Regions from separate parts of the Homo sapiens genome. Here region 2 is linked to region 1. A link means that fine-mapping ties the variant in region 1 to the expression of a gene that starts in the linked region. Tissue or cell type: whole blood. Region 1 holds a variant in brackets; the other region holds the start of a gene. All regions are shown on one strand. Distances are between the middles of the regions.

The links. PIP is the estimated chance that this variant, and not a neighbour inherited with it, causes the effect.
Region 2: it holds the start of NSUN2, and the variant in region 1 is fine-mapped to the expression of NSUN2 in whole blood (TOPMed, PIP above 0.99). The same link has a PIP of 0.9 or more in aorta, blood mononuclear cells, breast, cerebellar hemisphere, cerebellum and esophagus mucosa.

What each region holds. Positions count from the first base shown.
Region 1 is chr5:6,597,832-6,610,018 of GRCh38, reverse strand. It overlaps NSUN2 (NOP2/Sun RNA methyltransferase 2), which reads left to right. Exons shown (of 19, transcript NM_017755.6): 12 at 97-193; 13 at 2,635-2,819; 14 at 3,107-3,199; 15 at 4,611-4,746; 16 at 5,334-5,414; 17 at 5,743-5,881; 18 at 7,519-7,558; 19 at 9,787-10,780. The coding sequence ends at 10,093. Among named protein-coding and RNA genes, the nearest start is that of LINC01018, 22 kb to the right of the region's middle. The variant A/G (reference allele first, on the strand shown) is at 4,592.
Region 2 is chr5:6,624,179-6,636,075 of GRCh38, reverse strand. It overlaps NSUN2 (NOP2/Sun RNA methyltransferase 2), which reads left to right and starts at 3,032. Exons shown (of 19, transcript NM_017755.6): 1 at 3,032-3,192; 2 at 3,320-3,477; 3 at 4,099-4,203; 4 at 10,407-10,512. The coding sequence starts at 3,097. SRD5A1 (steroid 5 alpha-reductase 1) reads right to left here and starts at 2,636. Exons shown (of 5, transcript NM_001047.4): 1 at 2,207-2,636. The coding sequence starts at 2,499. RefSeq lists enhancers at 1,913-2,424, 2,425-2,936 and a silencer at 2,400-2,789.

The DNA of each region.
Region 1 (12,187 bases):
ATTTTTCTCTTGTATCATCTTTGCGGTATTTGTCTTAATAGTAAAAGAATGCATTTTTGATTAGTTCAGAGGTGTGAATTATATATATATATTTAGCCTTAGGATATTACCCCATCATCAGAATACTGGAGGGTTTTTTGTGGCAGTATTGGTGAAAAAATCTTCAATGCCGTGGAATAAACGTCAGCCAAAGGTGAGTTTTTCTTTTTCCAAAATGACATAACATTTGATCTTGTACATTTAAGACAAAAACTAACCGGAGTTTAGTAGAAGTACAGAGGAAAGAGGAGCTTCTTGCTGTGGGCAGCAGGAGAGCTGACCCTGAATGAGGGGGAATTTCATTTAAATATCAAGTTTTCCAAAAAGCAGAAATTTCTCATAGGTGATAGGTAAGTGGAGAAGTCAGTGTTTGGGGGAATGTATTCCTGCCACACTGTAAATCCAGTTATTTAATAAAAATTGAAAAGACATGAAAGATTGCTCTGTGGCTCTCAATTGGAAGCCCCAGGTTTCTGTGCTCTAGTTCCTTGTGAGTGGTTCATTTCACCAATTACAGATAGCAGAGCTCTGCTGACCCCAAGCCAGCCCGGGTTCACCTTGGCTGCAAGGAATGATGACGGCCTTGTCCAGACCTGGCTAGAAAGATGCAGCCCGGCCTGTTTGCTATGGATCTAAACTGCCTGCTGGTTCCTTTCCAAGGCAGGCCAGGAAACAGTGGTGAAGGAGTGTTGCCCTCATCCTAACACGCAGTCCTTTGTAATGCGTGCTGTCTCACCTGTATCACGCCAGCATTATTTATTAGTTCATAAATCAGCCTTCCATGATGAAAGAACCTGGCCTGGAATCAAAGTCTGGAAGTCTGTATTTCTTTAAGATCCATGCTTGAAAATTAGGACAAAAAACGCTTAGCTTTGGAGGAACAAAAAGGAAACAGTTCCGCAAAGAGCTCCAGCCTTTTTCTGGGGCACGGTTTGTGCAGTTTAACGTTGGAACGTACAGCCTCAGACGGGCAAAGGGGGCGACTGCACTTCTGCCGCCACCAGGGTTTTTCTGTCAGGTTAGAAAGTATTTCACTTTGAGGCTAAAAGTCTCACAAGGTATCTTAACGCTGATGGAATGTTATTTTCATGGAATCAGTATAAGAAATTATATTGTAAAGTATTAGATACTTTGCATTCATTCATACTAGGTTTCAGTAGCTTGTGTTTTAGACTTTGCGCTTGTCACATTTTAAGTGGTCAGTGACCACAGGCTTGTGGCTGCCCAGCTGCAGAGCACAGTGCAGTCACAGAGGAGCCTGTCTTAGAGACGCGTGCTTTAGGTTGGCCTGCATTAGGGCTTACATTGATGTTTCTGACGTGTTAATACTTACATAGAAAGGTTTTGACATTTTTTCAATTAGCCCCTTATGTATAGTCTTACTTTTTAGAACAACTTATTGTCATTTTCTCGTTTAAATAATATGAATACTTCTCTCTTTCTGTTACTATGTCAGTTTCTTATTCACTTAGTTCAACAGATCTAGTGCTAGCATGGCCTGTGCTGCTGTTGGTCCTACTGGGAACGCAGGTAGAGTCTCCATGGTCAGGATGCCGTGTTCTGTTGTGGTGCTGAGGCCTGTAAGCACTTGGCTAGAAGTTAGGCCAGGGAAGCTCACACTGACCTTGGTATTTGAAGGTCCCAGAATGAGGTTGTTGAGGTAGAACAGAGATGGGAGAACATGCCCTTGGAGCTGGACTCAACAAGAAGGCCCCTCTGGGGGAAGCTGAGGTTGGACAGGAAGGGCGTGTGCCCTCACTGACTTGCTCACAGGCTTGGGGTTCATCTGTTTTGGTTTTTGCTTTTTTACATTATATTAACATGGAAATAAAAGGTGTTCCCTGGGATGCTCCCGGCTTCTCTGCTCAGTAGCTTTGTGGCTCTGAGTAAAATGAACTTGCCTGTGTTGAAATATCCTAATTTTTAAACTTACTTCATAGGGACTGAGGAATTACGACTTTTATCAATTTTGTGACCTGTTAAAATGTTAAAAAGGACATGTATTTTTTAAAGATCTTTAAGTAAAACATTTTGCTCATTCCCAAAGCCAAATTTAAATTATACCATGGCCCTAATTCAGAAGTTCATTCTTTGGCAGGTGTTTCCTTGGTGCCTGGGGCACTCTCTCTTTCTCCCAGTTCCTGTGGCAGTTTGTCCAGGTGCCCAAGAACAATTCATACCCTCCTTTCTCGTTATTTATATACTTGTCTTTTTGCCCCTGCCGGGTATTTTAGAAATCGTGCTTGGTGCACTTTGTGTCCTTCAGTGTGCCTTACCCAGAGCAGATGCACGATAAGCATTTTTACACGAGAACAAGCTGGTGGTGTAGGCCTCTGCTAAGGAACAGGCTGTATATGCTCTTTGTGGGATTAAGGTAGAATCAGCTTTAACTCCAAAGAAACTGTCCATGAATTTTGTTTATAATAGCAAGTAGATTTAAAATGACACTTTAAAAAAATTCTGTTGTCTTTCTCTACATATAATGCTGTAGAAAAATATAACTGATGGATTTTGTGAACGTGGTATTTTTAACTTTTCGTAGCAGCACAAAGAATGCTCCTCTTTGTGTGTCAATGAAATTGTTCTTTATGACAGCTTCAGGGTAAATCTGCAGAGACCAGAGAAAGCACACAGCTGAGCCCTGCAGATCTCACAGAAGGGAAACCCACAGATCCCTCTAAGCTGGAAAGTCCGTCATTCACAGGAACTGGTGACACAGAAATAGCTCATGCAACTGAGGATTTAGAGAATAATGGCAGTAAGAAAGATGGCGTGTGTGGGTAAGAAAAGTGGTTATGTCTTGATCTAATACGCTGGTGTCTTCACAGTCCTTTTGGATTAAATGGGATCCCAGAGCCACTTCTTGGTCGGTTTGAGGGGGCAGTACATGTGTGGTATCAGGCACATGCAGTGTGAGGGCTGGACTCTGTGGAAGCCGGAAGGTTTCAACATCTGCCGCAAACCGTTCCATGTTGCACAGAACTGACAGAAAGGAAGAATGTGCTTTTGGTATTGAAGGTTACCACACATTACAGATTGATTTGTCTCATCCTGATTCCCTTTTTAGTCCTCCTCCATCAAAGAAAATGAAGTTATTTGGATTTAAAGAAGATCCATTTGTATTTATTCCTGAAGATGACCCATTATTTCCACCTATTGAGTAAGGATTCAGCCTTTTTAATTATTCATTTAAAGAAATTTACTATAGAGTATCAAATGTACAACTGATCACATGTAACCATTGTTTTGTATGTAGTTCTGTCTAGCTTTTTTTTTTTTTTTAACCTTTTTAACTGCATATTAGAGCAGGATGAAACTTTAGAGGTTACTCAATCTTTTAATTTAAGGAGAAAGTAAACTTTTACTTTGTGAACATGATAGATAAAAAAAAACTGGACCGGGCGCGGTGGCTCACGGCTGTAATCCCAGCACTTTGGGAGGCCGAGACGGGCGGAGCACGAGGTCAGGAGATTGAGACCATCCTGGCTGACACGGTGAAACCCCGTCTCTACTAAAAATACAAAAAAAATTAGCCGGGCGTGGTGGCGGGCACCTGTAGTCCCAGCTACTCTGGAGGCTGAGGCAGGAGAATGGCGTGAACCTGGGAGGTGGAGCTTGCAGTGAGCCGAGATCGCGCCGCTGCACTCCAGCCTGGGCGACAGAGCGAGACTCCGTCTCAAAAAAAACAAAAGAAAACTGGACTGTGATTATGAATCTAAATTAGTTGTGATCCTGAACCTAAATTACTCAATTGAGTATATAGACGAGTAGCCAAGGTTGTCTAGTTCAGTTTCTGTAGAAGAAATGAAGAGCAGCATGGGTGAGGGCTAATTAGGGATGACATAGACAGAATATAGAGGAAAAGGGTTTAGGACAAGTCTGACATTCATCTGTTTCTTATTCATTGAATTTTAGAATCTATTTACCAGGGCGGTCACTTACTGTCTTTTTTAATAACTGGTCCTTTGCATACATTTGTAAAAGTCTATTAAAAAATAAGTCTCAGCCGGGCACATCCCAGCACTTGGGGAGGCTGAGGCAGGCAGATCATGAGGTTAGGAGTTTGAGACCAGTCTGACCAATGTGGTGAAACCCCGTCTTTACTAAAAATACAAAAAAAAATTAGGTGTGGTGGCGTGCACCTATAATCACAGCTACTCAGGCTGAGGCAGGAGAACCGCTTCAACCCGGGAGGCAGAGGTTGCAGTGAGCTGAGACTGCGCCACTGCACTCCAGCTTGGAAGACAGAGCAAGACTCCATATCAAAAAAAAAAAAAAAGTCTCAAAAGTAGTGTTATCAGGTCATTATCATTGGAGTAGCGGCTGAGGGAGAGAAGCTGCACTTGTTAATTTAGGTTTCTGATGGAGTTGTGCCCCAAATAAATGTTACGTGGAGGTTTCAGGTGGAAGTGGATGAAGTTTAGAAGCTGGAGTCCAGAGCAGAGCCCAGTGCCCTTGAACCACACTGCAGTTTTGGGGATTGAATTCTGGAGGAGGAGAATAAGATGTTTAGAAACAGTCTACCAGATTTTGAACTCATTGTGGATAAACA[A/G]CAATGTTGTTATGTACAGGAAATTTTATGCTTTGGATCCTTCATTCCCAAGGATGAATTTGTTAACTCGGACTACAGAAGGGAAGAAAAGGCAGCTCTACATGGTTTCTAAGGAGTTGCGGAATGTGCTGCTGAATAACAGTGAGAAGATGAAGGTGCCAGCCGCACAGACGCTGAGTGCTGTGTGATGCGGGATGCGTGTGGCTTTTCACAGCGGCTTAGATTTCATTTGGAGCAGACCGTGACATCTGCCCTCCCCACCTGTAGCGCTGGCTGTGGGTCCCTGAGCCTGCCCTTTGATTTCAGAGCTGTTGACTGACACAGGGCTGAATGGTTCCTGCCAGAGTCCTGAATCTGGTGGCCTGTGTCTTTTCTGTGCCCCATTCCCGCAGGGGGGTGAGCCATGGTGTAGTTCTCACAGCTCGCCCTCCTGGGCAGAGAAGGTACTAAAGGTGTAGAGGCTGCGAGTACTGCTGCCCCGACCCTTGGGATTTGTCCTTTGAGGTACTTCCCTTAGAATTTGGCCATTTGGGGGCCCTTCTTTCATTTGCTTTACTGTCCTCCAAACGACGTAATCACAAGTTGTGAGTATCAGTTCGTTCTTAACCGGGGTTTCTCGGTGGGTTTCTGCTTCTCCTCTCCTTTCCCATTCCGTGACGGTTGCTCCATGTGGCCCGGCATCCTTACAGGAGATGGTCCTGTCTTCATCTCTCTGTGTTTCATCTTATTTTTTTACTTACAGGTTATTAACACGGGGATCAAAGTCTGGTGTAGAAATAACAGCGGTGAAGAGTTTGACTGTGCTTTCCGGCTGGCACAGGAGGTAATTTTGGAAGTGGATTTGAACAGCAGTAGCCACAGATGACTGAAGCAGTCGGGAGTAGATGGGCTTGCTGGTCAGCCAGATGGTCTGAGTGGCTCAGGGCTTGGCTGGCACCTACCAGCCACTTGACCCTCACAGGTTATAGAGCTCTCCCAGAGTGCTGGTTTCCCCTCCTAGGGGGGGGTGGGTTCCACACCTGTCCAAGGGGAGGGGCCATAGTGAGGGCTCGACCACCATAGCCGCTAAGAGCATAGCCCCTGAGAGCAGGCTGTTGTCGTTCATGAATGACATCATGGTATCTGTTCTCTCATTCTCTTTATTCACACAGGGAATATATACATTGTATCCATTTATTAACTCAAGAATTATTACTGTATCAATGGAAGATGTTAAGATACTGTTGACCCAGGAAAATCCCTTTTTTAGAAAACTCAGCAGTGAGACCTACAGTCAAGCAAAGGACCTGGGTGAGTAGTTGGAAATGCATAGAGACATAACTTGTATTCCCTTTATAAGGCCAGCAAAAATGCAGGTGGTGTGCGTTGGGGCATATTTATCAATCATAGTTTTCAGTTTATTTATGGCTACATCAATTTCCAGAGGGTTCTGTAGATCCCTGATTGACAGTTCAGAATGCTAAGGGTCAAAGGCATCTTGGGGTTGGTGTACTTCCCCAGGCTCTGGTGGTGCCCTGCTGCTGCCCAGCAGCCTGTGGTGTGTCTGTGTGGCGTGCAGGGCTGGCCTTTGCTCACCTTGCTGGGCCAGAGAGTCCGGGGAGAGGAGGGGTCAGCCTGTGAGCAGCCCTGGCAAGCCTCCCAGCCAGAGCTCTTGACCCACTTGCCTGTCAGCAGGTCGGGGGTGGGTGGAAGCAGGTCTCTGTGCATGAGCAAATTTGTTTTTTTCTTTTTTTGTTTTGAGACAGAGTCTCGCTCTGTCACCCAGGCTGGAGTACAGTGGCACGATCTCGGCTCACTGCAAGCTCCGCCTCCCAGGTTCAGCCATTCTCCTGCCCCAGCCTCCCAAGTAGCTGGGACTACAAGCACCCGCCACCACGCCCAGCTAATTTTTTGTATTTTTAGTAGAGACGGGGTTTCACCGTGTTAGCCAGGATGGTCTCAATCTCCTGACCTTGTGATCTGCCTGTCTCAGCCTCCCAAAGTGCTGGGATTACAGGCGTGGGCCACCGCGCCCAGCCAGTAAATTTGTTTTTTAAGGTACACAGCCTCACGAGACTGGCTAACATGCAGATTTTAATCACCTGTGTTAGAGCAAAATAAGAGTCTTGCCAGCAGTTCTGACTTTTCTGCTAGCCAGCTGGAGTAGATTATTGGTCATATTGCTGCTTTTATATTTCATCAACTTCCACTTCAGATCACTCCAGTGACGTTTTCCCCTAAGCATAAAAATCATTTCTCCAAGCTGTTCTAATTTTCTTTCTGTTGTCTTCATTCTTGTTTATTTTTTTAAATAACTTGCTGTTTAATATTTTTGGCTCAATTTGATCAAAAGTACGTGAATCACTTCTTGCAGTTACGTTTCTTACTTGCGTTTAAAACTTACTCGTGTGGTTCCTTTGGGATATAAAACATGCTCTGTGGAGTCTGTCTCCCACTGCCGTCTCCAGGCAAGAACCACAATTTAAAGTAGAGATTCTTGTAAAGGATAAAGGACCTGTTTATACTGGTTTTCTTTTAATCCTGCACTTAGATGATTGCAGTATTGTTTTAGACAATTTTTATGTATTTCATGCCATTCTGGGAGTTGGTGTTATAGTTTATTTAATTTTGAATTTTGAAGAATTAACCAGCAGTTAATCCCCAGCCTCCTTGCTTCTCAGAGTGGATTGTCAGGTGACATCCCTTGAAGTCCCTGAATGGCTTTTGCCTGGGTCCTCTTCCAGATCGTCCCTACTGCGTCATTTGGACTTGGTTCATGTATCCAGACGGCCTCTTTTCACCATCTAGATCCTTGAAGCCAAGAATGTAGATTATTTGTTGTTTTCTTTCTTCAGAATACTTAACACATCACTAGGTGCAGAAATGTGCTCAGCGCATGCATCCACTACCTGGAAAACCTGGCAAATGTGTGTCTGTTTCTTTTCCAGCAAAGGGAAGCATCGTGCTGAAGTATGAACCAGATTCTGCGTAAGTCAGTACACGCCCTGCCCTTAGACACACACGCCTTGTCATTAGCTACAGTGTTCTCGTTGGTGAGGAAAGTGACTTGGGAAGGTGGGAACCTTCTTCAGGCCTTTTGTGATTGTTCCTCAGAAGTAGCCTTGTGAAAACTTCAGAACCAAAATATTCCTGTAGGTCATCATGAAGATGCTGTTTCATAGAACACTCAGCTCAGGCTAAGTGAATTTTTACTTACAGAGAATAAAATGCATAGTACTTATTTTTTAAGCATTAGAAACCAATGAAAATTTCTGTCTTGTACAGAGTAAGTGTGAAGATTGGACAGTTGAGTGAGGTTCCGTTCTTTTGTCCTCATGGCTGGTTCAGCCATGTGTGTTGCTGACATGTTACTGCATCAGGAGTGCTAGGGCCGGAGCATGGGATTTGCTCACGCTTGCACTCACGGTCCCCACGGGACCACTGCTCCACGCTGCTTGCATGTATTCACGCTGCATCCTTGTGGGGGGCCTTGGGGGAGCAGGTGCTGGTTTTGGCAGCACTTGCCAGAGGAGGAAGCCGGGACAGAAAGTTAGGTGGCTTGCCCAGAGCTCCTCAGCTCACGAGTGGCAGAATTCGGATCTCACCTGCAACAGCTCCGTCTTGGTGACATGCAACACCATTTCTGAGAGGAGGAAACAGAATGGGGTCCACGGCTGACTGGGATTTGGGGGAGTGAATAGGTAGAACCACTGTACAGATTTCTTTGGGAAGTTAGTGTTGGACCAGGGATCCAGTGCTAACTTGAAGGAACCACCAAAGCGCAGATCCTGAGGCAGGTGCAAGCTGGGGGTCGGGGCGGGCCCAGCCAAGTAGGGAAGGAGGAGGGATAGGTAAGAGGTTGGCAGGGAGGCCGAGGGGCCACATGTCCTCAGGGTTCAGGCTGTCCGGCTGCCATGTGGAGAGAGGACAGGTGGGGGCTGAGGTGGGAGGGGCAGGAACTTGGTGAGGGAACAACAGATGGATGGGCTGGAGAGGTCAGCGAGGCCGAGCGCATGAGCACCCTGGGGACCTGCTGGAGGCGGATGGTGTCTGGATGGTGAACGGGCAGGAGCATCTAGTGATTGATGGCTTCTGGGTGTTTTTAACGAGAGTTTGAACAAAGACTCAGAAATGGTTTTTAAAATAACAGTCCCATGTGGCCCACATAGAAAATATTGGGATATTTTAAGGTGTGGATTCACTTTTCCATATTTAAACACTTGTTTCTACTTGGTGAAATACACAGGTGACAGGTCAACTTCAGGAATAATGGTTTTTTTTTTTTAAGAAGATGGGAGTTGGGAATTTCTTATATTTTCCTCTCACTTCTTAAAACCACCTTTGTGCCCCTGCTTTACATTAGGAAAAATGGAAAGGTGATTAAACACGGCCGTTAGGAGCCTAAAATCTAGGTCAGAGTCCCGTATGAAAGAAATCAGATAAGTTGAGAGAGGGCGTGTGCAGGTTGGAAATGGTGGCGTCCATCTCTGCTGGGGCGTCGATGCCTCCTGGCTGGACAGGTGGAGCCTGGAAGGTAGGGAGGCTCGGAGCATGTTCAGAGAGGCAGGGATGTTTTTGACTGTGGGTAACACTGCATGCTGGGAACGGAAATGAGCACTGTGTGCCCAGCAGGGCTCAGACTGCCATGTGGGGTCCCTGGAGAAGAAATCACGCTAACACTGAGTATCAAAAGGATGAGTGGTCCTGGGTTCTGCTCTGGCAGCCCTGCTAAGGGCAGAGTCTCCCGGTGGTCCTGGGTCCTGCTCTGACGCCCTGCTAAGGGCAGAGTCTCCCAGCCTCTCAGGAGCTTCAGTCCACTTAGGAAACTTGAGGTGAGCTGCAGGGAGCCTGTGGAGAAACGCTTCTCATTTAGTGGGGTGAGGTGACACGGGGTGGCGGGGACAGTAAGTTAAGTTTGAGAAGGAAGTATGTAGAAAGTGTATGTGAAATCTGTAGATTTGGGGCCTCTACTCCATTGTGAACTTAAAGAGGCAGGGCGAAAGCGAGGGTGAGAATTTTACTCAGGACATGAAGAAGGAAGTCCTTTGAGAAAACCTACCCCTCGGATCCAGATGAAATGTCCTCCCAGTAGTTTTGGGGGTTTTGTGGGTATGGGTTTTCTGTGGTTTTCTTTTTTAAGCAGTTGCATATTACATCTCATTCGATTTAGTTATGGGAATGTTTAATGTTCTACATGAAGCCACTTTCACTTGTAGGAATCCAGACGCTCTGCAGTGTCCCATCGTCTTATGCGGATGGCGGGGAAAGGCCTCCATTCGAACTTTTGTGCCCAAGAATGAACGGCTTCATTATCTCAGGATGATGGGGCTGGAGGTATTGGGAGAAAAGAAGAAGGAAGGGGTTATCCTCACAAATGAGAGTGCAGCCAGCACCGGACAGCCAGACAATGACGTGACTGAGGGACAGAGAGCAGGAGAGCCCAACAGCCCAGATGCAGAAGAGGCCAACAGTCCAGACGTGACAGCAGGCTGTGACCCGGCGGGGGTCCATCCACCCCGGTGAGCAGGCCCAAGGCAGCGGGGGCCCACACCCCTCACACGCAAAACTGGCTTCTTCTGGTCACTGGTGTCTGAAACCAAATCCAGAGCAGCCTGTGGCCTGTAAAGCATATATTTCTAATGACTGCAGACTGGTGGGATCATAGGAGCCTTCTGAATGACCAGGACTGCTTTCTTTGGAGCTGATGAAAATGTACTCTTTTAGCGTGTTAGAAATCACTTGTTTTATTTTGTTTCTTTGGCCAAGCTGGGTCTAGTGTTTCTTTTGCTGGGAATAGACTTTCAAAAGTTGTACTTCTATCAAGAAACAAAACTGCCCTTGCAGAAATTTCAGGTCTTTTGTTAAGCCTGTATTGGTCTTAAGGTGCAGTATTTTTTAAATTATTATTTATAGAAAGAATCTATAAATTCTTGGGGAAGTGTGTTATAAGCTTTAATAATTACATTGAGCTGCACCTCAGTGGTGTGTCATTAACATGCAGTGGGGTTAATATCTGAGGCCTCAGATGACTTTGTGCCTTTTGGAATAAAGGGTAAAATAAACTCTCCCAGAGTAAGAGCTGTATCGTGAATTGTCATACTAATTATTGAGGGGGACTTATGTGCTTTTATTGAATGGAGTGCTTTACAATTTTTATTTTTAAATGGGGTTGGGATCCTTGGAATATTTCAATAAAATTGATAAAATATATACATGTGTGATTCCTGTTTTTGCTCTTAGGAAGCAGAAAGAACAAACTTACTTTTGGCTAAATGGCAGTGTTAGAATACATCCTTATTTTCTCTAGTGAAAGCGGTTTTACTGTGAAGGCTGCTGTCTTCCTGTCTACCTCATTTTGTGTGTTGGTCTGTACAAACACCGACCACACACTGCCTTTGGTGGATTTGTCTCTGGAGTCTCCACTGTGGAATACTTTCAAGCTCTGTGGCGTGAAGAGCTCCTATTTCTCTTTCGCCCACATTCTCCACTGAACATTTCTCTACATTTGCATTTGCATCCTCTGGTGTGCTTGCATGTCACTCATTGTTTTCTGAACCCTTTGACAGTAAGTTACAGACGTGTTCCGTTACCCCCTTGCTCCTGTGGTGTTTCCTGGAAACAGAGGCCCTCTTTACAGCTCGCAGCATAGGCGTCAGAAACGTGGATGCAGGTCACCCTCAAACCAGCAAGCTCGCTCCAGCGGCCCAGTAATGTCCTTTGCAGTCACAATGTCCAATTTTGTCTGGGGTGACACCAGTTGCCTTTGGCTGTCTTGTCTCGAGTTCACTACCGTCAGAAACAGTTCCCAGTCTGTCTTTTATGATTGAGACAGTCTTGCAGGGTACCGGTCAGGTAGTCTGAATGTGCTTCAGTTTTGGTTGGTCTGAAGTGTCCCTGTGATGTGTGCGTTTTTGACAGGAGGACCACAGAGGTGGTGCTGTGTTCTCGCTGCGTCATGCCAGGAGGCTGACGATGTTGGGTTTTCTCTTTATAGTGGTGGTGAAGTTTGTTTTATTATTAGTAACATGGTATCTGTCTGCCAAGTTTCTCCACTGAAAAATTTGTAAGTATTGTGCAAGGAGACATTTCAAGACTATATTCCTCTCTCTCATCAAACTTTTAACTGCCAGCTTTAGTATTTCTTGATAATTTGCCTGAGCCAGTTTTTACTGTGACAGCTACAAATTGTTTTCCCCCATTTTTCATCACTTCTACATTATTAGTTCTCATTACATAGAATAAGCACTCCTCTGTCCTTTGTTTGCTTCTTGATTCATTTTCTGTCAGTACGGATTCAAGGATTCTGTTTTATTCAGTTATTTATTTATTATTACTGTCATTTATTTTGGTTCTCAGATTGTCCCGGCATTGGCCAGTGGGAACTGTTTCCAGTCAGTTTCAGTGCTTTATCCTACTTGCTGGTCCAGGCCCTGGACTGGGGACACCGGGCACGGTGGGGACCTGGGGGCCACACAGGTGTGTGGGGATGGGTTTAGTGCTCTCAGCATCTTTCTCCTCCCTCAGCCCCCAGAACTTTTAGGGCAGTGAGATCTTGGTCTACAGAAGGGGATTGTTGAAAGATGCTTCTCTGGGGAAACTGTCTAGCTTCAAAGAAGC
Region 2 (11,897 bases), 26 kb before region 1:
TAGCAATTTAAAAAAAAAACTATACCTGACCCAGCCAATCCTCTTGGAGCAGCTTTTAAACTATTAGTATAGGAAGTGGGCTTTCATCCCAGCAGCTCCTTATCCAACAGCCTCAGGGAAGACAGCAGCATGCTGTGCCTCCGTGTTCTACTCTGTATGAATGAGCTGTTCAAGTTCTATCATTCAAGGTGACTCTGGCCCTTTGGGAGGCTGCATTCATTTTTCTGCTTGAGTGAATGTAGGTACAATGAAACATGATGTCTCAAGTTAAAAAGCTTCCACTTGGGATGTCAGGCAAAACTTTGTCAAGTGTTCCCTTGATTTCCAACACCACAGTTTTGCTGGCACATGAGGCTGGCAGCAGTGCACATGAATGACACACAGAGTACATGTCTGGATGTGCATTCACAGCAATGCAAAATAGTGCTAGGTATTGTGTACTGAGCACGCAGATGCGCCAGCACCATGCAAGCATTTTAGGGAGTTGCCTTTGCTCTAAATTCATGTGATCCCACAGGGGGGTTCCATCACCATGCCCATTCTACAGGTGGGGAAACCTTGCTGCGGGGCAGCTTAGTAACTCATCCAGGGTCATGACTGATGGGACTAGGATAGCACCGAATACTCTGACCTGAGATTGCTTTTAGCCATAAAGAAACAGACATACAGCTTCTGGTATATTTATGGAAAAGTATATACAAACAGCAAAGTCTGACTAATATTCAAATTGTAGCAATGGTTGATCCCATTCCAAAAAAAAAATAAAGCAATGGTAAAGAGTTTCAGGCACACAGTACTCACTAAGCCTCTGATGAATGTTGACTTGCCCTTGTTTAAAGTGCAAGTCATCAAAGCACACTGAGGACACAGACTGCACCAGTTACAGGGTAAGGTGCTGGTTTTCAGGGAACTCAGGTACCAAAAACTGTGCTGGGTACAACACTGGTTCCAAGTAGTGGAGCTGTGTACTTTCTCTTCGCTGGAATGCATGACACCAGGAGAAAGAAGAGAGGCTTATAAACACACACTGAGTTCTTCCTGTCTCTCTGGGAAGTGAGTGTTTTAAGGTGGGACCCCAAATCAGAAAGGTTGGGTAAACTGCCCATAGTCACACAGCCAGTGAGTTCAACTTCCTTGGGTGTAGAGACATCCTTTTTAACTGTGAAGCTTTCCAGAGCCTGAATGAAAACGTTTAAAATTTAATTTTGAACTTTCGACCTGTCGTTTGCTTTGGCTGTGTAAAAGCCAAAAGATACGACCTGGAGAGAACCCCAACTTATTAGAAGGCTTGAAGATTTCAGACACAGCCAGTTTTCAAATATTCAAAAAAACAAAAACCTTGAAAGATTTAGAAGTCATCTTTAAGACTTCGTTTGTTTAAGGTTTAAGGTTGCTGGCTTTCCACCCCCACAATCCTGGGGTCCCTTGCATAAGGTGGACATGAAAGTCTCTGAAAGTGATCAAGCCTATAAGGAGAAACTGCTAGGCAGTTTTAGGACAGCAGGTTTCCAGTTGCAGCTGATCACTTGGCTGGGAGAAAACAGCTCCACCATCACCAAAGATACCAAAAGGGGAACCGGCAGAAAGGAGTAGAAACCAGTGGCCCTCAAGACCGACCATCAGCATTAGACTCTAGGCCAACCCCCTCCCCCCCGCCCCCACAGTCGTGATCTAAGGGAACAAAATCTAGTCTTCATTTTTATTTTACATTTTTACTTTTTAACTCTTTATTTTTATATATTTAATTTTGAGACAGAGTCTCGCTCTGTCACCCAGGCTGGAGGGCAGTGGCGAGATCTCGGCTCACTGTAACCTCCGCCTCTCGGGTTCAAGCGATTCTTCCATCTCAGACTCCCGAGTAACTGGGATCACAGACAGGCGCCACCGCGCCCGGCTAAGGAAACCAAACCTAGGACCACTGAGTGGCTCTTTCCAGATCAGTTTCATCATGTTTTTTTCCATCACTCCCTTCCAGTCCTTTGTTTCCCGCCCTTTCCAGACGAATCCCTTCTGGTTTCCAAACTCCCGGGGCCGGGGGACTCGGGGAAGGGCACCCGTGCAGATGGGGGACGCCCCGGGGGATCTGGCAGGGAGAGGGCATCTGGGTGGGGGAGGCTTCGGGGAGAGGGCACCGGGCAGTGAGGGGAGGGTCGGAGAGGACGCCGGGCCGGGAGTAGGGTAGGGGGCCGGGGGCCGGGGACGTTACCGATGCCCGTAGTGGACGAGGAACATGGCCAGGAGGATGCAGTTGGGCGCGCTGCGGAGACGCGGGGCGGACTCGCTGGCGTACTGGTAGAGCGGCAGGGCCAGCGAGGGCAGCTCCTGCACCACCCAGGCGGCCCGCGCCGGCACTCGGAGCCTGTGGCTGGGCAGCGCGTGGCGGCCGTACACTGAGTTCGTCTGACGATTGCGCGCGAAGACCGCGCAGCCCACGGCGCACTGCAGGTAGGCGAGCGCGGCCAGCAGGCGCTCCTCCGCCACCCCCGTCGCCGTTGCCATCGCCAGGGCTGGGCAGCGTGCTCCATGCCCCAGAGGCCGCGGCGGGCAACATATAGGGCGGCGGCGCGGGGGCAGGAGGGGCGGCTACCGGAGGGGCGGCTACCGGAGTCCCGCACTGCCGGGACTCTGCAGAAAGGGTTCTCAAGTCAGGCTTCTCCGGGGTAGCCGGGGCTGTGGGTGCGGCCCCGGGGGCGGGGCGAGCACTTGCGCGGGGAGGGACCTGCAAGCGCCCCACCCACGCCGGGGCCGCAGTAACCCCGCGCCGCTCTGCGCACGCGCGGCTTCAGGCTGTCCGCGGAGCTCCTTGAGCCCGCGTGGGAAACCTGGGCGCTTCGCGCGGAGACGCCTTTGTGGCTGCTTCCTGGAGCATTTTTTTCCCCTTAGAGCTGTTCGCTGTTTTCCCTGTCACGCCGCTTTTCTGAAAGACGGGTTGTGCGCTTTGGGCTTATTCCTGGACGGTCCCCAAAGGTCCCCGAAAGGACCAGGCCCGGACACGTGGGGCCTTGGTTTCCGGCCGGAAGTCCCGGGAGGTGTAGGGCTAGAGTTCTGGCCGTGGCGGGCCGGTTTCTGCGTGCTGCGTGCGCGGCCGCGTGGGCTATGGGGCGGCGGTCGCGGGGTCGGCGGCTCCAGCAACAGCAGCGGCCGGAGGACGCGGAGGATGGCGCCGAGGGTGGTGGAAAGCGCGGCGAGGCGGTAGGAGCCGGGACCCGGCGGGCGGGCCAGGGGCTCCTCCTGGGCTTCCCGGACCCCGAGGCCTGCGAGGCGGCGGCGAGGGGGCGGCTCCTTGGGCCTCGGGGTAGACGTCTCTTTCCTTCCTCAGGGCTGGGAAGGAGGCTACCCCGAGATCGTCAAGGAGAACAAGCTGTTCGAGCACTACTACCAGGAGCTCAAGATCGTGCCCGAGGGCGAGTGGGGCCAGTTCATGGACGCTCTCAGGGAGCCGCTCCCGGCCACTTTAAGAATTACTGGTTACAAAAGGTAGGGAGGCAGTGCCTGATTTTTTGGGAGTTGGGGCCAGGATGCTGGAGGTTAAAGGCGACGGTGTTTTCTTCGACAAGTGTTACAGTGCCAGAGAACCGTGGCGTTTCAGCGGTTTGGATTCAGGAAGCATTGAGGTGGGGAGCACAGGGTCCAATGAAATGGTCACGGAGGTATTGCAGGCGCAAGGTTAGAAGACGAAATGAAAATGAGATCTGAGGAAGATTCGGCTCCTGGGGAATCTTCCAGGAGGGAAGCTGAGGGTCTTACCTTTTGGAACGTAAGAGAATTTATAGAGAATGCATAAAACCCCTTGGTTCTCCCCTCCTCCGCGCCCCCCCTCCATCTTTGTAGTTACATCTTTCTAAATGAGTCGCAAGTAAAACTTAACGGTAGGATATGCTTAGGAGAGAAGGAATGCAGTGTTGCTCTTAGGGCTCAAACAGTGTGGATTGCTTAAATTTTGAAGGCATACAGTGTAAAAGTAGTGACTAAAGAATGTTTACTCTCCATGCAAAAGTTGGTTTTAGTTTTAAAACACTTGCAGTCTTAAATTTAAGAAGATACAATGTATTAACTTAGTTTTTTAGATCAGTTTGAAACTTCCTTATTTTTCAATAGCCACGCAAAAGAGATTCTCCATTGCTTAAAGAACAAATATTTTAAGGAATTGGAGGACCTGGAGGTGGACGGTCAGAAAGTTGAAGTTCCACAGCCACTGAGTTGGTAGGTACCACAGTGCTTCATGCCGAATATTTATTTGGGATATTAATCTCTATCACTTGAATTATATTTCTTGGTACTGCATTTGCTGTTAAAGAGCTTGGGTATACTTTGCAAACATCCTAATGTTCTAGTACCTGGTGCTTTTATCAACATTATATTGCTACGCAAGTTTTCATGCGATTTGCGATTTGCAGCTTTATGAGTCACTGATTTCAGCCAGCTCTTCCTAGTACATCCAGCCTCTTCCTTTATGTCACCACTTCCGCCAGCTCCCTTTTACAGCCCTTGTTTTCTCACATCAAAACTGTTGCAGAGTGGCTGCTTTGCCTTCAGAAAAAGGACAGACTTAGCTTGACAACAGTCTCCTGGTAGGTAGTCTCTTAGTGTTTTCCATTACAGACAGGTTACCACTGTCTGCTGTCAGGTTGTCTCCTGGTACTTCGCAGTACAGACTGCACCAGCCAATGTAGCATTTCCGAGTCTCAGCACCCAAGCGTGCTACTACTCTGGGAGCTACCTCTTTCTTGACCTGTCCTGGAGGTGCCTTCTGGGTTACCTATTCCTCATGGCTCGGTTCTAGTCTCAGTTGTATGAAGGTGATCCCTTGTGCTGATAGCATCTTGTAAAGATGCTTGGAGAACTCCGGAGGCGCCAGTCCTTCAGTTAACTTACATAAGTGGGAAAGTCGTTATTATTAACTTTGAGGTATTGAGTTCTCAGAAAAGTAATGCACGAAAAGGTGAATTAAGCCGTTTTTTGTTTGTCTGTTTGTTTGTTTGGAGACGGAGTCTCACTCTGTCGCCCAGGCTGGAGAGCAGTGGCACCATCTTGGCTCACTGCAAGCTCCACCTCCCTGGTTCACGCCATTCTCTTGTCTCAGCCTCCCGAGTAGCTGGGACTACAGGTGCCCGCCACCACGCCCGGCCAATTTTTTTGTATTTTTAGTGGAGACGGGTTTTTACCTTGCTAGCCAGGATGGTCTCATCTCCTGACCTCATGATCCGCCCACCTCGGCCTCCCAAAGTGCTGGGATTACAGGCGTGAGCCACTGCGCCCTGCCAAATTAAGCGTTTTGCATCAACTTTTGAGGTTTTGACTATTCCAGTACGTAGTGTTATCTTTCCTTTTTGGATAACCTTTAGTGTTCGCAAATCAAGGTCAGATTTTCATTAATCATGGGGTACAGATTTGCTTGTTTTTCTTTCATTGGCTATTTGGATTTTCATTGTCCCTATCACAGATAAGCATATACATTCACAATGAATGCTGACTGGCCAAACATTAAGTCAGTATTCAACCAGTATCAAGACCGAATATCACCATCATGGAATGTGTTGCTGGGATATAGGAATAAATATGACCAACATCGTGAAACCCTATCTCTACTAAAAATACAAAAATTAGACAGGCATGGTGGCACACGCCTGTAATCCCAGACACTAGGGAGGCTGAGGCATGAGAATCGCTTGAACCCAGGAGGTGGAGGTTGCAGTAAGCCAAGATCATGCCACTGCACTCCAGCCTGGGCCACAGAGCGAGACCATGTCTCAAAAAGGGAAAAAAGAATAGATATGCCACATCTTAGATTTTTAAAAGCTTGAAGGGTACAGTATAGGAAAATGATACGGGTGCTACGTTGCTGTTAGTGGTCACTAATTGTCCACTGTAGTGAGATCAGTGGAAAAGGTAGATGTTTTTCAGCCTCTAGTTATGGCATTGCTGAGATGAGGTAACCTTCACGAGATCAAGCTTTTCTTCCTCCTGGTAACTAGGTTGTAGACTTTGCTCAAGTCGTTTGGTTTGAAGATTTGATTGACGACACTGATTGTGTTGTACTTGAAGTAGAGGTCTGATACTGTAGTAGTCCATTTTCACACTGTTATAAGGACATACCTGAGTAATGTATAGATAAAGGAAATAGGCTTAATTGACTCACATTTCCACATCGCCGGGGAGGCCTCAGGAAGCTTAAAATCATGGCGGAAGATCTCTCTGCACAGGGTGGCAGGAGAGAGAATGAGTGCTGAGCAAAGGAAGAAGCCCCTAATAAACCATCAGATCTCCCCCTGAGAACGAACTCACTGTTGTGAGAACAACATGAGGGAAACGGCCCGGGGATTTAATTATCTCCACCTCGTCCTGCCCTTGACACGTGGGGAATATTACAATTCAAGGTGAAATTGGGGTGGGAACACAGAGCCAAACCATCTAAAATATTTTAAGAAGACAGGATTACGATTCTCCTCGGGCATGTTTGTATTTTTAGCAGTGATGCATGTATGTGCTGCTTCACACAATCACCTGGAAACATTTGTTTCTAAAACCTTGTGTTTAGAAGCGCAGAGACGGGATAAGAAATGCTTTTAAGATGAAGAAGTTCCTGTCCAGGAGGAACGTTTCAGCATGTGTCTATAGGGAAGAGGTGTGCTCTTAAGGCACCTCCATGTGGGCATTTTCTTCTGCAGGCTCCAACAAACTAGGAGAAACCATACGATGTCAATAAGGCTTGCTAGTTTTTTATTATTCTCTGCAAACTACAGTTACACTTGGATTTGATCAGCCCTTTTAACATTTCATAGCTGCTTTTCCACCTTGTTTAACAATGTGTCTGGGTATATGACAAGGTAATTACCAAACTCTTAGAATCTGCAGGTTGTCTGTAGTTGAAGAATGAAGGTGAATTGCTCTCTGCCAACAGCCAGCTATGTTTTTGTTTGCTTTAATTTTCTGAACACACAGCTGAAGGGTATGAACAAAACATTGTAGATCTGGGTTTCTAATATTTGGCTTTTTCCATTATCAATGATGGTTTCTCTATATTTTATTTTGAGACAGGGTCTCACTCTGTCACCCAGGCTGGAGTGCAGTGATGTCATGACGGTTCACTGCAGCCTTGACCTCCTAGGCTCAAGTGATCCTCCCACCTCAGCCTCCTGAGTAGCTCGGACTACAGGTGCATGCCACCACGCCTGGCTAATTTTTTTTATTTTTTTGTAGAGATGGAGTTTCACCTTGTTGCCCAGGCTGGTCTTGCATTCCAGGGCTCAAGCAATCTTCCTGCCTTGGTTTCCCAAAGTGCTGGGATTACAGACATGAGCCACCATTCCTGGCCAATGCCAGTTTCTTGGCAGCTGTATTCTCTAAACATTTATTTATTCAAATTCATCTGTCAGTTTTAGGGTACTAAATCTCTCAGCAAGCAAGTAAAGCAGAAGCTTTCCAGGACTTCTGGTAATTTTCTGTATTGCTCAAGATGCAGGAATAGATCATGTAATATTCTTCCCAATCCTCTGGTACATAGTGAAATATAATTTAGGAAAACGTTTTTTGAAATTACATTTTCTAGAAGGAAAGTTATGTATAGGACCATAGCTTGGGCCAGTTTCATTTTTTTCTTACTTTCCATAGACTCAGAACAATGAGAAATTATCCTAAAGCATTCTTATAGAAGCATTGTTTTGACAACCAATTGTTCAGAGTGCACCTTATTATCATTCTATTTATGTGCTGTTTACTTATATTTTTTTTTGAGACAAGGTCTCTGTTGCCCAGGTTGGAGTGCAGTGGCATGATCTCAGCTCACTGCAACCTCCACCTCCTGGGCTCAGGTGATCCTCCCACCTCAGCGTCCCAGGTAGCTGGGATTACATGCCCCCATCACCATACCCAGCTATTTTTTCTATTTTTTGTACAGTTGGGGTTTTGCCATGTTGGACAGGCTAGTCTTGAACTCCTGACCTCAAGTGATCCGCCCACCTTGGTCTCCCAAAGTGCTGGTGTTACAGGCATGAGCCACTGCACCTCGCCTGTTACGTGCTTTTTAATGTCTAGATTGAGGATGGTTTGTCATAGATGTTGTATATATTTACAGAGTCCTTACCACTTGAGAATTTTTAATATGCAAAGATGACAGTGGTCCTTTTAACTTATCCTCTAAAAAGCCCAAATAGGATTTTTTCTTAAAAGACACAAGCTAAATTTGAAGTAAGTAACTAAAAATTAAATATACCTCTCATTTTGTTTGATGTTAAAATCTACAAAGATTTAATAAACATTTTTTGGTTCATAAAAAGATGATGCTGTTCCTAAAGCTGTATAAGAAACATAATTTAAAAACATTTCTTGTAGAAACAGGGCCTCGCTTTGTTGCCCAGGCTGTTCTCTGTACCCAGAGGAAATAAACATTTATCTGTTAGTTTCTGTTTGTATTTAAATATTTCAGAGTTCCTAAATGTTTCTTTACATGAGATCAACAGCCTTCACAATTATAAATACTGTAGAATTTTAATCTTGTAATAGTACGTTTACATTTTGACTATCAGAAATTTGACGAAAAAGACATATAAGGCTATATTTGTTCAAAGTATATCTAGACTGCTTATCTATATTTGAAAATGAAAATTCAGCTCTTTACAATAAGTCTAAATGGCATGTGGTGTTCATATTGATGTCTTAGTGATTTGGTAAGGCAATAACTTACATGATCGTACTAGCTTTGAGACAGACAAGTTCAGGAAGACCAGATACTATATGAGCTGGCATTTGGCTGTTTGCAAGTAGAGGTTACAGTGGCACAGCAGATATTTGCCCAATACTATAGCAAATGCCAAATTTGCATGTAACCTACTATTTCGCCTCTAATGAGTCCAAAAGATTATTTAAAACAATTCTTTTTAAAATTGCCTTATGAATATGATTTTCTTTTGGCTTTATATTTTTGAACACATTAAATGTCGAGGAGGGAACTGGGCTATATGAGATAGAATCAAAGCGCTGGGGACCTTTGGAGGGTGGCCGTGGACAGATTCAGCCAGTTTCGTCTTCATTATTTGGTAGAAAATGCTTTTCAGGTATATTTTGTAATATTTTGACTTGAGCAGTGTCGGGCTTTTAAGTCCTGAGTTTGTTTCCATCAAAAAATCAGAGTTTAAAAGCAGTCAAATGTGTTTGTGTTTTCCAGACATTCCAGTTTTATTTTCATGGTTTTCACTCTAGCTACAATTTGACGCATGGAAACATTGTGAGCCTGCATTGTTAAATTGAGTGTATTACTGCATCTCAGGTTTAGTGAGAATTGCTGAAACTACACTAAGATTTATGGCCGTGTGACGTGGTACACTTGGTTTGGCATTGGATTGAGCATGGTGCTGCATGACATCAGTGTGCTCATTTGTACGGTGCAGATGCCTGTATAGGTGCAGGCCAAGTTTCAAAGCACATCCTGGGTGGGGTACAGTGGCTCATGCCTGTAATCCCAACACTTTGGGAGACTGATGCGGCCGGATCACTCGAGGCCAGGAGTTCGAGACCAAGCTGGCCAACACGGCAAAACCACATCTCTACTGAAAATACACGTCTGTAATCCCAGCTACTCAGGTGGCTGACTGAGGCATGAGAATTACTTGAATCCAGGAGGCAGAAGTCACAGTGAGCTGAGATTACACCACTACACTCCAGCCTAGGTGACAGTGAGACTGTCTCAAAAAAAAAAAGGCAGTGTTTTTAGTATCCCCCATTTCTCCCCTAATTAAAAAAAATAAAAAAAATAAAAATAACATTGATGTCATCATTTATAGAAAGTTCAAATATATTCACAGATATGATGGCAGGAAATGCTTTATTCTTAGTTATATATAGGTAACAGCCTAGGAGCTCAAGTTAATGCATTAGTGGTTTCCAAGGTAGGATTTTTTTGGTATGTAAAATATTTTAGTGCATTATTGAACTGGTGTTAGAAATAATGAAAAATATATTTTTTAAAAAACTAATCAGGTATTTGTGGGACACTCTGACACTGCATTATTTTGATTCTGTGTGATCTGCACATTAAGTAAGTCATCTTGTATCTTTTTTTTCTGATGACCTTACCATTGTTACCTTATAATGGTGAAGAGCAGAGGAGTGTCCGCTTTTTCATCTGATCTCGAGCGTTTCATCATTATAATTTTACAGTAATATGCATAATCTTGTAACCCCCATGGCTCTCCTGTTTCTGATTGGGCCACGGTGTAGCTAGAGCCATGTTCCTTAAGCCTACAGCGACATCTCTGAGTGTTGCTGACTGTCCGTAGAGGATTGTGAATAGGAGCAGGGAGAACAACATTCGAAGTCTCATTTGGCATGCGACTGATAGAAGCACAAAGTTGTCAACAGACGACTTTAGTATTTATAATCCATAAATGTTTTGCTTTCTTTTTGGTCAGGTATCCTGAAGAACTTGCCTGGCACACAAATTTAAGTCGAAAAATCTTGAGAAAATCGCCACACTTGGAAAAGTTTCATCAGTTTCTAGTTAGTGAAACAGAATCTGTAAGTTGATTTCTTTAGACTTGCTAGTTTCCTTAAAGCTGTAAATGCATAGATGTAGTGTAGTTCTGTTTTTAGGTTCTTGTCACTAGAAGCAGTAGGTGGACATCACACACAGTAAAGACAACTGCAGTGTGTGCACCACCTGTGATTTCTGATTATTTGTATATCCGTTGCCTTGTTTGGTTTATCTAGTCATGAAATTTAGTAAGGATATCGATGCCAGCTAGTTAATTTCTTGTTTCCTCTTGCTTGTGTATTTGGATGGCTATAGGGTTGGGGTGAGCACTGCACTCTCATTTCCTTCTTAGGTACACATTTCAGATGCCTGTTGTACATAAAAAGTAGTATGTTTTTAAGGCCATCTTGGTAGGGAATAGGTTTTTGGTTCTGTTTTTTAAAATTGATTTATTTTACTAAAAATGAAGCTTTTGATTTTACTTTTTACTGTGTTTTTTTTTTTTCTTACCACACATTGCTCTTGGTAACCACAAAACACCTAAGCACCACAAAACCCCTAAGCACAGCTTTGGTCCTCACAGGACGGCATCTGTCTTCACATTCTCCGTAGCCACCCACATTCCTTGAGTGCAGTTAAGGTGCTGAGCTTTTTACCTTTAGCATCAGAGCATCCCCAGCAAAACAGCTATTTGCTTATGTACTAAATAATTCAATGAATGCCCATAAAGTTTGGGTATTTTTTTTGGAATTCTTAGTCTCACATTTAAAATCAGAGGTTTCGTCCTTCCTATTTTCTAAACTACTACCTTCTAGTAAATCTGTGTGTCACCAGATTATGGTTCTTTTTCACTTTGGCCTTCTGTCATCTAAGTAACCGACTAAACTGGGCTTGTGTCTGCCTGGCTTTTCCTTCCTGAATAGTAACAAGAACCAGGAACTAAGTGCTGCCACATAACCCCATTTCGTACTTGAGACCAGTGCACGAAAGGATTCTCTTGCTCAACTTTCAATCTAGATGGAAGGCCAAATAGAGATCAGTAAGCTGCTAGAGAACAGCTCAGGTTTGCACTTGGAAGAGAGCGTGGGGTTTGTGGGGTGTGATACACATGGATAGGTTGGAAGAGCCAGGTTTTGGCATGTTTGGAAGATGGAGGAGATGGGAGTTTAGGGTGGGTAGCAAATGTTGTAGGGAACTAGTATAGGTTTTTGATTAGGAGTCAGCGTGATGAGAGCTCTTGAGATGAATGGCAATAACCTCTGGGTTATGGAAAGCTGGCCACAAAACATCTACACAGGGTGGTCATGAATCTGGTTACTGTCTGCCGGGATGTCCCCATCTTACTTAATGCTTTAATCAAAACCTTGGATGGATACAGAAGGCAGGCATATCAGGATCACACGTATAACTCAAAAGCTTGGAATCAGTG